3 linked regions of the Homo sapiens genome follow. The protein of the gene in region 2 purifies or fractionates together with the protein of the main gene of each other region. This does not show direct contact. Each region holds a gene or a part of one and is shown on either strand. Other genes may lie near its edges. The genes, in order: ARPC2, ARL3 and ARPC1A.

Region 1 (3,653 bases), on a different chromosome or scaffold from region 2:
ATGCCAGTAAAACTGGATAATCCAAATTCATCAAGTGGGCCTTCCAAGATGATAGACAGCAGGAGGATGCTGCCAAGGACTCTCCAAGGTCTCTTGTTTTAGGAGTTCTGAAGGCATGGTTACACAGCCATGTGGCCTGCGTGCCCTTCTACTGCTGCTCAAATACTGCCTCCTAATACCATCTCCAACAAACCCAGGCAGGTACTGCTCTCTTGCTGGAGCTGCCATGTCTTTTCTACAAACCTCTACTATGATATTTTACCATTCATTAATGTATCTGGCTCCCCTACCAGGTTATGAGTTCAAATCAAAGATCCTGCTTAATTTATCTTTGTAATTTATTCTTCTGTCTTTCAAAGAGGCTATGCAGCACATGCCTTGCTGAGAGAAAGCAAGTGCTTCTACCCTAGCTGGTTTAGTATCATCACACTGTACAGGAATAGGCAAGGGCTGTTTCCAGTTGCAGGCAGGAAGAATAAACACTGATTAGCAAGCCCTCTCGACAATTAGTGGCAAAAGAAAGATGATGGCTGAGGAGCCCCAATGCCCAGCCTGGGACCTCACCTATTTCACAAACTGCCTCTCATGCTAACACTACCAAGCTTTAAGTAGGAAAAGAAATGACCATCAACTGGGTTAGATTAGTCCCCTTTTGAACAGATTTTGTTCCCCGAAGGAAAAATATCCAAAAAGGAAGGGAAGGAGTCAAGATTATCCCAAATGGAAATTTCTAGAGCAAAGCTTCTAAAATCGCCCTTCTCTAGAAAACATTTTTTATTCTACAAAGGGGTTAAGAAGCTTTTTAACTTTTACTGGTTTTACTTTTCGGTATTAAGGAATTAAACAGAACAGATACGTAACTGTTGGCATTTTCTTGTGTCTGTTAAGTGTCTCCAAGGCTCTAATTCACAGGTACATGTGGTATTCACAATGAGATGGGGTATTTATAAACCAGTGGTGACTTATTAGCACTCATTAGTTTTGTATATGGAAAATAACATATTTAAGGCTCGGTCAACGATACGTTTCTGGCTTGGGCCTATTCTTTCTTTCTTTTTTGAGACAGGGTCTCACTCTGTCACCCAGGCTGGAGTGCAGTGGCGTGATCTTGGCTCACTGCAACCTCCACCTCCTAGGTTCAAGTGATTTTCATGTGTCAGCCTCACGAGTAGCTGAGATTACAGGCGTGTGCCATCATTCCCGGCTAATTTTTGGCCTTTAAAGTAGAAACAGGGTTTCACCATGTTGGCCAGGCTGGTCTCAAACTGGCCTCTAGTGATCCACCTGCCTAGGCCCCGCAAAGTGCTGGGATTACAGGCGTGAGCCACTGTGCCTGACTGGGACTATTCTTTAGATTCTCTGATGTCTTTGCTTCTCCTCAGTTCTCTCTCCTAAATAAAGCTTAAACAAACAAACACACCCAAACAGCCCTCCATCTTCATTGGCATCTTTGTTATACGTAATCAAGCAATATTGCCTTTTTACTCTCCTTCTGGCTAGGATGTCTTTTGAGCATCAGATTATTTCTCTCTTCCAAAGTACTATTTATCATAGGAAGTTCGGAATAAATCCAAATATATACAAGGCATTTAGCATATGATAAAAGTAGCATCTTAAATCAGGGGTGTAAAAAAGGAAATAATTGCCACTGGGACCACTGGATAGCCATTTAGGAAAAAAAGATCATTCTTTCATACCATACAACAAGAGGAGCTCTCAACAAATAAGAAAAAATCATGTATAAAATATGTAACTGTAAAAATACTCAGAAAATAACAGGTAAATTTCTTTATAACCTTCGAGTAGGGAAGGGCTTTCTACCTATAACTCAAAATCTAGAAGCCATAAAAGGCAAGACTGATTAATTTGATTATGTAAAAACAAACTTCCACATGGTGGAAAAAACCCCACAAAACACGGTCCAATGACAAACTGGAGAAAATATTTCAACTCTTAATCACAGATGAAAGGCTACTCTCCCTAGTATGTAAAGAAATTGAGAAGCTCAATGACCCTACAGAATAATGGGTAAAGGACATAAAGAGACACTTCATAAGAAAATCAAATGGTCTATAACATTAAGAAAAGATGTTCTGACCTCAGAACATCTTTTTATGTCATCATAAGCAGACACAGATACCACCTTTAACCTATCAGATCAGGAGAAATCCACAAGTTTACAACATACTCTGGGAAAACAGGCACTCCTCTCCATCACTGGTAGATGATAAAATGCCACTACCCTGATGGAGAAGAGTTTGGCAATGTCTACCAAAATTACTGACTTGGACTCAGTGTTCCCAGTTCAGGAAAATATCCTACAGACATACCCACACATGCAAACAGGCAGAAAGGGCCCTCAAAATACATCTTTACAACTGCCTAAGAGGCAGGTGCTTGTGTCTTTGTCCCTGAACATATAAAAACCAGTGGTTTCCACTTAACTTTTCCTGGTTATTTAGTTACTAACTTGACTTTAAAATCTTAGAATATGAAAAGAATTCTAGTTCACCATAAGCTAATCTCCAAAAGCATAATTACTGGTCCTATTGCTTTTCATGGAATAAGCATTGAAATGATGGCTTCTATCAGACATTCTCCAGTACTCAGCTGATATGCCCATACCACTAGTGTGGAGGAATACACTTCCTGTCTTTTTCTGAGAGGTAGAAAGCATCCCTCAGAGCCTGCTTGCCAAATGACAAAAGCAAGACTTGAATTCTGATCAGGCTGGATGTGCATGCTGGAAGGGAAAGGCCACAAAGGCTGGCAACAAGTAGACTAGTGACCATGAGGAACTTCAAATAGTGTTCTCAGGGTACAACTTTCTGTGCCAGGTGTCCCTCATTCTTTTTCCGAGAAATTTACAATTCCAGGCCTAGGAAAAAGTTCTATTTATTTTTTGGGAAAATCCAGCAAAAGTCCAGTTTCCGATTGTCATTTCCAACAAATTACCTAAGCCTCTGAATTTGGAAAGGGTGGCAGGGCAGATGACTTCCTGAGTCTAGCTAGCACTGCACCAGGCCAGTTACTATCCAGAGATCCTGTTAGTGCCAAAATGCAAAAGAGGCTTTGTCTTTCCTTTTAGGTAAGTGCCCTACCACAGGTACCCTGAAGGAGGCATTTAAATCATATGCCAAAAAAGAATACACAAAATTCTCCTAAGGAACAAATCTCCGGTACACTCTCCAAGATAAGATCTGTTTAAAGTATAAAAATAAGTTGTTTCCTGGAATAAAATGGAATAAGATTGGTAAAAAACCAGCCAAATCTAAATATATACTTCAGAGCTTTTAAAATTAGTTTTGTTACTCTGGATTTAGCCCAATTTCTGAGCTACTGCATTTAATTCCCCTGTCAATTCTGCATAAAAACACATGAAATGCCTCTCTAGAGGCTTACTTTTAGGACCCAAGAGATACATGTATATTTATATATTCCTTCATCAAGTTCAGCACTAGCAAATGCTGAAGTGTCAATATTCCAATTTTTCTGTATAGTGACTCCCAAACTAGTTTCTGATTAATTAGCCAAAATACAAAAGCCACTAGGGATGGAGCAGTTGAGAATATCACTTTTGAAGATTTTCCTAGCCACTTAGAAGGCTATGCAAAGTATCTTTACTGTTAAGCACAGCTGTCTTTCAACTCTAT
Region 2 (3,653 bases):
GAGTTGTGCTCTCGGCTCACCGCAACCTCCACCTCCCGGATTCAAGCGATTATCCTGCCTCAGCCTCCCGAGTAGCTGGGATTACAGGCATGCGCCACCATGCCTGGCTAATTTTGTATTTTTAGTAGAGATGGGGTTTCTCCATGTTGGTCAGGCTGGTCTTGAACTCCCGACCTCAGGTGATCCGCCCGCCTCAGCCTCCCAAAGTGCTGGGATTACAGGTGTGAGCCACTGCACCGGGCTGGAAGTCTTCATTTTTAAGACAGTTACTTGAGGTGAAACTTTGAGGAAGGTGAGCAAATCAGGGACAGGCAGAATTGCCAGGTGGGGGTCAGTGTGGAAAGAAACAAATTAACAAGCCCTTTGGGGTTCCCAGAGAATGTATTGCATGAACAAGAATTTTTTTTAAAGTCTTCTTGCAAAAATTACATAGGGAAACCAGGATTTGAAAAACCCAGTCAACAGCTTGCTACCACAGAAGAGACATTTCATCCAGAATAACTGGAGTTAGATAGCTTTGGGGATGCCTCCACAAACATTTGTTTCATGTGGTAGCCTGTCAACACTGCTGCCTGGCACAGAAGGAGAAGGCACAGTGCAATAGGACAGGAATATTGCCACCCAATTTCCACTGCGGATACACAGTCTCTGGAGGATAACTGGGGATCCTGCTGACTCTCACTTCTCTAACACGCCAATGACTGAATACATTAGAAGTTCGAGAATTCTAAAGGGAAATGGCTTAAGCTTATTGAAAAAAGTTTCATTGTGACTCACTGGCAAAACTACTTTAGTGTATTTAAAAATTCCACACTCAACAATGATATTAAATGTCAAACTCAGTAATACTGAATCCTTTCTGGAATAAAGCAGAAAATAAATAACAGTAAATCTTGGAATACAAGTAACAGTGAATCTTGGAATTTGACCATATGTATCAATGGGCTTAAACAGCTATAAGTCATGAGACCCAACAAATCTAGGAATTTATTCTGAGGAAATAATAATGATGAATGGGCAAAAACATTTAGAGATGTATATTACATAAGTATTTACATATATAATAACATAGAAAGATGTTCATGATCTATTATTAAGTGAACAAGAGGAGACAGGTTCAGTGGCTCACACCCATAATCCCAATTTTGGGAGACTGAGGCGGGAGGACTGCTTGAGCCCAGGAGTTCAAGGCCAGCCTGGGCAATGTAGTGAGACCCCATCTCTACCAAAAAAAAAAAAAAAAAAAAATTAGCTGGGTGTGGTGGCACATGCCTGCAGTCCTAACTACTCAGGAGCCTGAGGTGGGAAGATTGCTTGAACCCAGGAATTTGAGGCTGCAGTGAGCTATGGATGGTGCCACTGTACTCCAGCCTGGCCGACAGAGTGAAACCCCGTCTCTAAAAAAAATCTATATCTAGATATAGATGATACAAGCTAGTATATCCTCTATGAGCCATTTTTATTTTTTATTTTAAATATACCCATCATATATATGCATAGAAAAAAACTTGATACATTCCTAAATGTGAACAGTGGTATGTCTGACTGGGCATTATAGGTGACTTTTAGTTTCTCAATTGTATTTATTTATACTTCCTAAATTTACTACAATGAGCATTTATTACTTTTTCTAATATAAAACAAAAAACATAATAAAAGTTTGTTTTTAAAGAATATGAAACCTTGACACAATATAATATCAGAGTTACCTATAACACATCAAACAAAGCCTGAAGGTTAGAATGAGAACTTTGGGTTCCTAACTTTGAGTTTATTTCTGTGTTTGCAGTGTGGAAGTCTTCACGTTAGTGTTCTTGAGAGACACAGTTTATTGCTAATACTAAAAAAACAAAAACAAAAACAAAAAAACCCCACAAGCGCATGCACACAAAAACTAGTGCTTCTTTTTCTGGCAGAAATCTTGACACACTAATATGTGTTTTCAGCCCTTCTAGGCTAGATTACTGTAATTTGCTTGGGCTATACATTAAATTTGTTCAGAAGCTGTAAAAATTGTTCATTTGGTAGCAGTTGAAATGACTTTTCCATAAAGAGTTGTGAATCAGTAAGACTCATGGGCCGTGAAGTATGCATGCACACCAGCACAGCCATTCAAACCTGACACCAGGGTCTTATCACGGTACAGTGATGGAAAATAACTCTGGTTTTGCTAAAACCTCTAACCTTTAATGCTCAAACACTTTAAAGTGACTAAGACCAACAAGCTCTCCCTGTTGGCTTAGCCAAAGGTCAGGCATTCTTAGGATTTCCTACAGGGAATGAGTTCTAAGAAACCCACTACAGTTTTTCCAATCAGGTCTTGTCTTTTTTTTTTTTTTTTTTTTTTGAGACGGAGTCTCACTCTGTCGCCAGGCTGGAGTGCAATGGCACAATCTCAGCTCACTGTAATCTCCGCCTCCCAAGTTCAAGCCATTCTCCTGCCTCAGTCTCCTGAGTAGCTGGGATAACAGGTGCACACCACCACATCCAGCTAATTTTTGTATTTTTAGTAGAGACAGGATTTCACCATGTTGTCCAGGATGGTCTCCATGTCCTGACCTCATGATCCACCCACCTCGGCCTCCCAAAGTGCTGGGATTACAGGCATGAGCCATGGTGCCCAGGACTTGTCTTTTTTTTTTTTTTTTTTTTTTTTTTTTTTTTTTTTGTGATGGAGTCTCGCTCTGTCGCCCAGGCTGGAGTGCAGTGGCATGATCTCGGCTCACTGCAAGCTCCACCTCCTGGGTTCACGCCATTCTCCTGCCTCAGCCTCCCAAGTAGCTGGGACTACAGGTGCCCACTGCCACGCCCAGCCAATTTTTTGTATTTTTAGTAGAGACGGGGTTTCACCATGTTAGCCAGGATGGTCTCGATCTCCTGACCTTGTGATCCGCCCACCTCGGCCTCCCAAAGTGCTGGGATTATGGGCATGAGCCACCACGCCCGGCCCAGGACTCATCTTTAAACCTCCACGCTGTGAGCACTATCATTCCCTTATCCTTTATGCTTTGCTTGCTTGCCCTTTTCAGGAAAGAGGAAGGTTGATGAGACTGGATTTAAAAAGGCAGGTAATTGGCCGGGCAAGGTGGTTCACGCCTGTAATCCTAGCACTTTGGGAGGCCGAGGCAGGTGGACTGCCTGAGCTCAGGAGTTCGAGACCAGCCTGGGCAACAACGGTGAAACCCTGTCTCTACTAAAATACAACAAATTAGCCAGGCGTGGTGGCGTGCACCTGTAGTCCCAGCTACTTGGGAGGCTGAGGCAGGAGAATCACTTGAACCCAGGAGGCGCAGGTTGCAGTGAGCTGAGATTGCACTGCTGCATTCCAGCCTGGGAAACAGAACGAGACTCTGTCTCCAAAAAAAAAAAAAAAAAAAAAAAGGCAGGTAATTTTTTTTTCTTTTAAAAATTGATACATATTTGTATTTATTAAGTCTGAAAAGTACACGGTAAAATATTAACCATGGTTTTTCTCAGAGTTTTCTCCTTTATACTTTCTCTGTGTTTTCTACATGCACTACTTTCATAATCAGAGAAGATAAAGCTATTTTTTAAAAAAGAATAGGCTGGGTGTGGTGGCTCACACCTGTAATCCCAGCACTTTGGGAGGCTGGGGTGGGTGGATCATTGAGGTCTGGAGTTTGAGACCAGCC
Region 3 (3,653 bases), on a different chromosome or scaffold from region 2:
AATCACCACGTAATCACCATGTTATAAATAGTGGATCAATCTAACTGGATGGGCCTCCTGATGGCAGTCCACATGAAGTACACATCGTCACTTATAAATAGTGACTTAACGTACCATCCAAACCAGAACACTTCTGAGAGCAAAAATAAATAATAATTATGCCAACACAACAGGTCACAGGGCTATCCTGGAGAAACCTGGGAATATGGTCAACCTACCAATGAAGTCTCTATGCCAAACATATTTACTCTAAATCCAATCAAGATTCAGATCTAATTTTCAGTTTACAAGAAATAAAGGATAAAGGAACTAGTCAAGCAACACAAGGAGGAAATAAACAGTTAAAGCCAGGGTGTGTGCCATTCTATAGAAGAACTGGCCTGGACTATTCCAAAAAGGCAATATGGAGGCAGGATGAGAACTGTTCTAGAGAGCTATGAAAACCAAATTTGATAAGTGAAAGTTGATTATAATATAATTTCTTTTTTTTGAGACAGAGTCTCACTCTGTTGCCCAGACTGGAGTACAGTGGCACCATCTCAGCTCACTGCAACCTCCACTTCCTGGACTCAGGTGATCCTCCTGCCTCAGCCTCCTGAGTAGCTGGGATTACAAGTGTGCACCACCAGGCCCAGCTAATTTTTGTATTTTTAGTAGAGATGGACTTTCACCATGTTGGCCAGGCTGGTCTTGAACACCTGGCCTCAAGTGACCCGCCCTCCTCAGCCTCCCAAAGTGCTGAGATTACAGGTGTGAGCCACTGTGCCTGGCCCATAATCCACATTTTAAAAAATGGGCAGAAAAGATGTATTTTGTATAACAGGGAAAATTACAATTTAAACTAGATATTACATATGGAATTATTTTCATTTTCTTAGGTGTGATAACGGTATTGCCATTAGATAGGAGAATGTCCTAGCTCTTAGGAGACAAAGATAATGATGAAGTGTTCAGGGATGAAGTATCATGATGTCTTCTGTAACTTCTTTTCTTTTTTTGGGTGGGGGGCAGGGGAGATAGGGTCTTGCTCTCTCACCCAGGTTTGGAGGGCAGTGGTGCAATCTATGCTCACTGCAGCCTCCGTCTTCTGGCCTCAAGTGATCCTCCCACCTCAGCCTCCTGAGTAGCTGTGGCTACAAGCATGCACCACCAAGCCCAGGTAATTTTTGTAGAGATGGGGTTTCACCATGTTGCCCAGGCTGCTCTGACTGGGCTCAAGTGATCCACCTGCCTCAGCCTCCCAAAGTGCTGGGATTACAGGCATGAGTCACCATGCCCAGCCACTGTAACTTATTTTCAATAGTTCAGGACAGAAAATATATAGAATGTGAATGTGGCAAAATGCTAACTGGTGAATCTAGGCAAAGAGTATGTAGGCGTTTGTGATAATACTTTTTAAACTTTTAATTGTAACTAAATGAAAAGCAGGAATCTGCAAAACATTAAATTAAAAATTCTCTATTTTATAGGTACCCAAATCTAGATACACTTGAAGAAGCAACCATTAACTGAAATGGGAACATTTTTCAAAAAGCAGCCAGCCTTCCTCTACCCCCAACTTTATCATTTCCAGGAGGCACCCTCACAATAAACTCAAGTTTCAACACACGTAAGTATGTGTCATGTTAACCTTGGGTGGAGGCTGAAATGTGAGATATGAATTCTGATGCAAGCAGGAAATGAATGGAAGGGCCACTAGAAGGTTGTAAAGTGAACAATGAAAGTTCAGCTGACAAAGCAGAAATCAGTCTCAGAAAGCAGAAGCAGCACCTCTGCTAATTGTAAAGGAACCCAGGCCAGGCATGGTGGCTCAAGCCTGTAATCCCAGCACTTTGGGAGGCCGAGGTGGGCGGATCACCTGAGGTCGGGAGTTCGAGACCAGCCTGGCCAACATGGCGAAACCCTATCTCTACTAAAAATACAAAAATCAGACGGGCATGGTGGCAGGCACCTGTAATTCCAGCTACTCAGGAGGCTGAGGCACAAGAATCTCTTGAACATGGGAGGCGGAGGTTGCAGTGAGCCAAGATGGTGCCACTGCACTGCAGCCTAGGTGACAGAGTGAGACTCTGTATCAAAACAAAACAAACAAACAAACAAAAAGGGGGGGGGAACCCAAAGGTAAGTGCAACTTTAAATAAAAAACATCTGATACCTTGAACTGGCAGAGAAATGCTAGCATTTCATATTCTATTCTAAGAGTGAAGATAGTTAAGTCATTACTTTTTTCTTTTATACAGTCGAGAAAGCAAACTACAACTAACAAAGAAAAAGCTTAGGAATTGGCAATTTAAAAAAATTTTAAATGCATTCAAATGAGAATGTTTAATTTGTTTTTTTTTTTTACAAGAACTTCCAGATGCTCACTGCATGCTTCTCTCTTTATCTCTGATATCAGATGCTCACTCCAAATTGTTCCATCACAACAGATTTTAGTAACAGCTACTCAAAATAACATGCTGTTATAACTCCTTAATTAAAAGCGCTTTAGTTCAAAAGCCACATTTGATAAGCTTATTTGTTAACTAAAAATAAAATCGGTCTGCAAATCAGAAATTTGATGTGAATATCTACGTGCCATAAAAGTACATGGTTCATGTCCAGTTGAAAAGTACAGCTGCAGACAAAAGGCTTTCTCATGTTCAACTCAGTGTTTTATAAGCAATGTAGCAAAGACTTCAAAAGAGGTGGCCATTTACACAACAGTGTAATTACTTCTAAAATTGCATTTCTAATTTTGCCATATCATTCAAGTTCCATATTTGGACATACACTTAAGACCTGTACTTCTTTTATAATCAGGTGGCTATTTTAAGTCTGCAGGCCAAGACAACACTCATGTTTGTCAAATTTAGAATGCACCTAGCAAACACCACTTGCATTCATGAAACCCAGTGAATGCAGAAGAAATTCCTAATAGCTTGAATTATGTACCAAGAAAGGGTACCTTCTGTCATAGGGTGATAATTATAATTTCTAAACTATGGTTAATGTTTAAGTGAAATCTGAAAAGCTTTGTCTTAATAGAGCTAGAGAGGGAGAAAAGGGGACAAATAAAAATGCCAGGAACTCCTCATCCCTTTTCTTTATTTTCTTTTTTTTTTTTTTGAGACGGAGTCTCGCTCTGTCGCCCAGGCTGGAGTACAGTGGCACGATCTCGGCTCACTGCAAACTCTGCCTCCCGGGTTCACGCCATTCTCCTGCCTCAGCCTCCCGAGTAGCTGGGACTACAGGGGCCCGCCACCACACCCGGCCAATTTTTTTGTATTTTTAGTAGAGATGGGGTTTCACCGTGTTAGCCAGGATGGTCTCGATATCCTGACCTCGTGATCCGCCTGCCTCGGCCTCCCAAAGTGCTGGGATTACAGGCGTGAGCCACCGCGCCCTGCCCCTCATCCCTTTTCTTTTCCTCCCTCCCTCCCCCCTCATCCCTTTTCTCTCTCTCTGAGTTTTTTTCTCAGACAAGGTCTTGCTCTGTCACCCAGGCTGGACTGCAGTGGTGTGATCTCAGTTCACTGCAACCTCGGCTTCCCAGGGTCAAGCCATCCTCCCACTTTAGCCTCCTGAGTAGCTGGGACCACAGGCATGCATCACTATGCCCTGCTAATTTTTTAGTTTTTTGTAAAGACAGGGGTCTCCCTATGTTGTCCAGG

What was found.
Region 1: the proteins of ARL3 (region 2) and ARPC2 purify together in Homo sapiens (affinity purification with mass spectrometry; one large-scale study listed by BioGRID and IntAct). This does not show direct contact.
Region 3: the proteins of ARL3 (region 2) and ARPC1A purify together in Homo sapiens (affinity purification with mass spectrometry; one large-scale study listed by BioGRID and IntAct). This does not show direct contact.

Annotation. Positions count from the first base shown.
Region 1 is NC_000002.12:218,241,182-218,244,834, reverse strand, and holds part of ARPC2 (actin-related protein 2/3 complex subunit 2), read right to left. Parts: intron 1-3,653. UniProt on the Homo sapiens protein: Actin-binding component of the Arp2/3 complex, a multiprotein complex that mediates actin polymerization upon stimulation by nucleation-promoting factor (NPF).
Region 2 is NC_000010.11:102,700,794-102,704,446, forward strand, and holds part of ARL3 (ADP-ribosylation factor-like protein 3), read right to left. Parts: intron 1-3,653. UniProt on the Homo sapiens protein: Small GTP-binding protein which cycles between an inactive GDP-bound and an active GTP-bound form, and the rate of cycling is regulated by guanine nucleotide exchange factors (GEF) and GTPase-activating proteins (GAP).
Region 3 is NC_000007.14:99,328,756-99,332,408, reverse strand, and holds part of ARPC1A (actin-related protein 2/3 complex subunit 1A), read right to left. Parts: intron 1-3,653. UniProt on the Homo sapiens protein: Probably functions as a component of the Arp2/3 complex which is involved in regulation of actin polymerization and together with an activating nucleation-promoting factor (NPF) mediates the formation of branched actin networks.